Regions from separate parts of the Homo sapiens genome. Here region 1 is linked to region 2. Evidence: fine-mapped expression QTL. A gene starts in region 2. The other region holds a variant in brackets. All regions are shown on one strand. Distances are between the middles of the regions.

Region 1 (2,889 bases), 100 kb before region 2:
CCTTGAGACTCAGATTTTCCTTGAAGAAAAGACTGAGATGGATTATTTCAGGCTCATCAAGGCATTGTCATCAGTTACCTGGGGGCATACATTTTATTAATGTGAAGCGCAAAGGACCATGCAAAAATGAGCCCCCCGGGCTCTCTGAAGGGAGGCTGGACACGAGTGTGTTGGCTTGTGGAAATATTCATGATAATTTGCATGTTTTGATTGGCACTTCAGATTGACAAGCTATTTGTTCAGCATTTTGCTAGCAAATCCAAAATCATGAGTTCATTGTCCGTGCAGGACCTGCCAGAAGCTTGCTCAGTTCCCAAGTTTATAGACCACACTCTTTACTATCCATGGTTCTTACCCCATGTACTTGATTGATACCTAAAGAGAGACTGAGGATAATTTGGCATAAATCTGTCCCCTCTTGCTCAAAGAACAGCTCAAGGCACATATTTAGGTAAAGGTTTCTGCAAAACAACTTCTTTTCTCTATTATCAAAAGGGAGAGACATGACTGGCTTTGACTTTGCAGGTTCATTTACTTTTTCCGGTTGGCCCTTCCCACCCCTCCCACTTCCAAATATATACTAGCAGTTTTGAAAACCAAAATTCCTGTAAATGTCAAAGACCTTTCTTTAGAAAAATCACTGACAAAAGTCCCCTTGCTTTAGTTTCTCAGGCACAAGAAGTCAAGTGTTCCCAGGGTCGCTCAGGGCTAATAATAGAGTCTGTAGCCGCCCTCGGCCCCTGGGGACATATGGCCCCATCCCAACCCTGCAGCAGGCTAGCAACTAACTTCACGTCTCACAGTCTGAGAAGATGGGGCTTTGCAGTTGGAATTGGCTGCCATTCGACCAACTTCTCGAGTAAGGTTTCTCAGCTGTAGCTCTGTTAATATGTTGGACCAGACAATCTTGTATTGTAGCAGAGGCGAGAGAGGGGTTGTGGTGC[G/A]TCCTGCGCATCGTGGGAACTTTGACGGCATCTCTAGCTTTTAGATGCTACTAGCACTGCCACCACCACTCCCCACCCAATGTGACAACCTAAAATCCCTCCAGACATTGCTAATAAGCCAATGACAGCCACTTATACAGATTAGAAAGTTGGGGGACAAGTGGCTCTAGAAAAAGGATTATGTCACAGCAGCATCAAAGTACAGTTCCATGGGAGGAATGTTTCCCCTGGAGTTGGGGTTAAAATGGCCCTGAGAGGACAGAAAATACTGGCTGAGTGGCCCTCTCTGCAAGTAAAGCTGAACTTTTCAGGGTCTAAGGCCCTCTTTGTCACATGGGACCTTCCAGTCATTTCCCTACTTATAATCCTTCTCTTCCTGATGTGGTATGACCCTGGCTTCTGAGAATCACATCATTATTTTTGAAGAGTGTCAAGGTTTTTCTCATCATTAGTTCATAAAAACTGATTGTAGAGAAATGTCTTAAGAGAAGGTGGCTGAGAACCAAATAGGAAATTTTAAACGATCTGAGTTCTTTCTTTCTGCACACAAGGTCAGGAGTGGGCTGGAGAAGCCAACGAATTCAGAAGGCAGTAGCTCATTGAATCTCAGAAATAGGACTGAAAGGAGTCCAGATTTCCACTTCCGGGGTTGATCCTGGCCCCCACCATTCAGCACCAGCCACTAATGCCACAGAAACATCAATCCTTCCACCTGTCTGAGTTTGGCAAGTTCACGTCATTGTTGGCAGGAGGCCTCAGTTCTTCGCTACATGAACTTCTCTCTAGGGCTGCCTAAGTCTTGTCATGACATGGCAGCTGGCGTCTCTGAGAGCAAGTGACCCAAGAGCAAGACAGTGTCAATGTCTTTTATAATCTAGCCTCAAATGTCACACCCCCTAATTTCCATAATATCCTATTTAAAAAATTTATTTCAGTCGGGCCATTTTTTAGATCTTGGTAATGCATCCAAACGATTATTTGATTCTGTGTGTAAATTGTGAAGCACAATAGTAAAATAGACACTCAAGAACCACAGCCCAACTCAAGACCTGGAAAAGTATGACACTGTTGCATTTACCATTCCCCCCCCACCTGAGGTGAAGGTGCCCCTGGCTTCTGTGCTAACCTCTGTCTTCTGGGTTCAAGCAATTCTCCTGCTTCAGCCTCCAAGTAGCTGAGATTACAGGTGCCTGCCACCATGCCCAGCTAATTTTTGTATTTTTAGTAGAGACAGGGTTTCTCCATGTTGGCCAGGCTGATCTCAAACTCCTGACCTCAAGTGATTCACCCGCCTTGGCCTCCCAAAGTGCTGGGATTACAGGCATGAGCCACTGCGCCTGGCCTGTGTTGCTACATTAGTCTTGTTACTCACATGGTCTGGGCCAGGTTCTGCTGGTGCTGGTACAGGAGGTTGCATCTTGATCCATCTTCCGGCTCTGTACCTGTCCAGTGTTTCAGCCTAGGTACAGTGGCAGGAGGTGGACTGGAAGACCACACACCTGTATTTTATTCCCAACCCTGTGTCTGCCTCTAGAAGGGGCCTTGAGCAAGTCACTCTTTTACTAAAGCAACTCATACTAAAACAACACAACAATTCTTCTTCTTTTTTTTAACCTGGTTTGAACACACTGTATACAATAATTCTTGTCCCTTCCTGACCTATTTCGTTGTTGGAAGAGTACAAATGATGTTGCATTTACGCATTCCATGGTGTTTTCTTAACACCATGTTTGTGTTTGACATAACTCAATAGCAAGACTAATTGCACTATATTTTAGATATTCCCAGGAGAGCTGAGAAAGGGAGAAAGGCTACCAGGCAACATTCTCAGAGTATACGTGTGAGCCTTTCCCTGGCACCTTGATTTGGAGTAGTCTCAAGTTTTATGTTGCGGTCTGTACTTTTCTAGGTGTTATATAACATTGCTTTCATGTATGCCAAGAAG
Region 2 (2,903 bases):
GTTGTGTTAAAATCAAGCATTCAAGCATTGTTCAAATATCTCATCATTCTCTTCTCTCCCTATTATGCTTAATAAAACTTTACTACTTTAAAAATTATAATGGCCACCCTATGTATCAGGTAACTACACACCTCTTGCAATATACATATAGGGATCCACACACGTCAATACTTTCATGTCACTAAACAGCTAAAGTGACTTTTCCACTCATTTCAGACTTCCACCTCATCCAACTCCCTCCTCCGCAAGGTATGAAACAATTTTTTAAAAAACATCTTTCCATAAGGCCTCCCTTTCTTAGTTCTGCTCCTGAAAGACAAAAAGGACCAATTTTAAAGTCTTCCCCTTTTCTAAGCAGTAGTCACTCCCCAGTTAATTTCAGGATCTAACAACCTTACTTTTCTCTATCAAGATTTTTGACCCACTTTACCTCTGCCTCCAAGCTCTTACTCAGCTTCCATGGAACCTTTCAGCTGACACAAAAGCTGGTGTCCTTCCATTCAATATGTTCTCGCCATCAGGTACTAAGTTCAACCTATCTACATCTTCATCCTGAAATGTGCATCAATCGCCGCGCCCCCCACCCCAGACACACATCTCGCACACACACACACTATTCCCATGTGTCACTCTACCTCTGACATACAAGTTCCTTACACCACTCTTAATGAATACACACGACTCTCAGAATGGTATCTTCCGACTACACTGATTCTAACCCAGTTTCTTCTGAAAAACCCAACCTTGTCCACAGTGCCTCCCTCTTTCCTCACTTCCCCATCTATTCCCCTTCACGCCTCCCCACACCGCCAACTAACTACAGATGACATTATTCCTCAATACTCCCAACCCGAGAATGAAGAACAAGCTCCAGTTTCCTGCGGTCTCCCTCTCCCCCTGTCTGCCCTCCGCGGTTCCCCCGCCCCAACACCCCAGGTGTGCAGACTTCCTCCCCGTCCTCTACTCATGCATCGCTCCAACCAATCCCACGCCACACCACGAGTCCCCTGCCACGGGGATCAGACTCCTCCACACCCACCTCCACTCGGGGTCGCCGCCGCCTCCCCGGACGTTTCTCTCCACCCCTCGCTAGCAAACCCGAGACCAAGGGCGCGCGCGCACATTCTCACGCTTCCCCAACCTCCCTCCTCGCACCGGGACGAGCCGGCTTCGCCAGAGCTCAGCCCGGGCGGTAGGGGCTAGGCACCCATACCCGTTCCGCCCCCTCCCGCAGATCCCCTTGCAGTCTCCGCCGACCTGCCCGGCGAGGAGAGGACGCAGCAACTCCCCCGCCACCCCGGACTTACCTCGGTGTCTGTTGCTCCATGCCCCAACCTGCGGCCCGCTCCCCCTACGTACCAGCCCGGCCTCGGCACTCACCGGAGGTACTGCGCGCTCTGCAGGCTCATCCTCCGCCGCCGCCGCCGCGTCTTCCCGCGAAGCCTCCGTGGGTCTCTCAGGCTCCTCGGAGCGGCCCCGCGGCACCGCGGGTGCTGGCGGCCGCCGCCATCTTCCTCTCCTCCGGCTCCTCCTCGCTCGGCAGGGGGGTGGGGGTGAATGAGGCGAGGGGGAGGGAGTGGGGAAAGCTGCTCTCGCTGCTGCTCTGGCCCGTGGGGCGCAGGGACACTCCGACCCGGGGGGGAGGGGGAGGGAGGAGGGGCGGGGGAAAGAGGAGAAGCAGAGGAAGTCGGCGACCGGGCGAGGGAGGGGGTCCCTCTCGCGAGATTTCAGCAGCGCCTGTCCCTCAGTGATTTCCGCCTCTCTGTAGCGCTCCCTTTTGGGATCAACGAGCTGTGTGGCGCCTGTGCGGCTTCTGAGAGACCGGCTGGTGGCGCTTGGCGGCTTCCTGCCAATCCACCCTTCTCCTCCCGCGCAAGGGGGCAATCCCAATCCCACCACCGGGAACACCCAGGCCAAAAGAACGGGAGTTACACTCAAAGTCTTCCCCCTTCTTATCACTCCTGCCGATTTCCCTCTTCCTTTTTGCACGCCTCCACTCTTCCCCACCGGAAACGCCGCCCCTTCCTCCTACAGTTCCTCCCAGCAGTCCCTCAACGCCTGTCTTCCCTCGCGCGTAGAGAGTGACTCGAAGGACCCCCTCTCCTCTTCGCTGCAGCCCCTCCCCATGCACGCTGGGAGACTCTTGGAGGGGATAAGGTGGGGCCCGGAGAGGAAGAGAAGACAATCGGATTGGATAGGCAGCTGCCATGGCAACTGGAGGCTGTGGTTATATTGTCATAGTAACCGATGTGTGCGGACAGGGTCACCCTCCCCTTGGCCAATGGATTCCCAGGAAACCACCCAGGGTTCCCCGTTGGCTTCCCTTCCATCTAAAGGCCTCCCCCAAGTTAGGAATCGATATAGTTCTCCCCGGTGGTGAAGTCCACTTCCTCCTCCCTTCCCACTTCCCACAGCAACTGGGGGGACACCCCGAGGCATTCACCATGGGCTTTTCCACCCGCCTGCGAGCGGGAACCACCTCCGTAGTTTCCTCTCAGAGCCGGGCGTGGAGAGGGCTGGGCCTGCGAAGAGGATGCATGGCCTGGAGGCTGGCGGGCGGCGGGCTGGAGTCGGGAGGGCGAGGCGACAGCGCCAAGCGGCGAGGAAGGGCAAGGGGTTTCCCCACAACTGCCTTGGGCTCTGGGAGGCGGGATCCCGCCTGGACGGGGTCCCTGAGGGAGGAGAGCGGCACACGACAGCCGCGATGCCTTCCCTGCCGACGGGGATAGCCGACTTCTGGCGAGTCGACCCCTCCCCCAAATCCACCCCACCCGCGTACTCCCTCCTGACCTAGCTGTCGCGAGCCTGCCGCGAGGAGGCCAGGGTGAGGGTGGGAACACATCCTAGAAGGCTAACACGTGGTTTTCTATCATTTAAGCCGGGGACAAGCCGGAAGGCTGACT

Which allele goes with the higher level. Positions count from the first base shown, and alleles are read on the strand shown. Sizes are in standard deviations (SD) of each study's normalised expression.
For the expression in monocytes after LPS of the gene that starts at base 1,531 in region 2, G is the high allele of the variant in region 1 and A is the other (large effect, 0.87 SD a copy in Fairfax 2014).

What was found. PIP is the estimated chance that this variant, and not a neighbour inherited with it, causes the effect.
Region 1: its variant is the best candidate, but not a certain one, in a credible set for the expression of SMG7 in monocytes after LPS (Fairfax 2014, PIP 0.62).

The regions. Positions count from the first base shown.
Region 1 is chr1:183,574,586-183,577,474 of GRCh38, reverse strand. NCF2 (neutrophil cytosolic factor 2) reads left to right here. Exons shown (of 15, transcript NM_000433.4): 4 at 2,854-2,889. Among named protein-coding and RNA genes, the nearest start is that of NCF2, 14 kb to the left of the region's middle. The variant G/A (reference allele first, on the strand shown) is at 945.
Region 2 is chr1:183,471,127-183,474,029 of GRCh38, reverse strand. SMG7 (SMG7 nonsense mediated mRNA decay factor) reads right to left here and starts at 1,531. Exons shown (of 23, transcript NM_001375584.1): 1 at 1,381-1,531. The coding sequence starts at 1,409. SMG7-AS1 (SMG7 antisense RNA 1) reads left to right here and starts at 2,048. Exons shown (of 5, transcript NR_040063.1): 1 at 2,048-2,903. RefSeq lists a silencer at 1,544-1,693 and an enhancer at 1,849-2,480.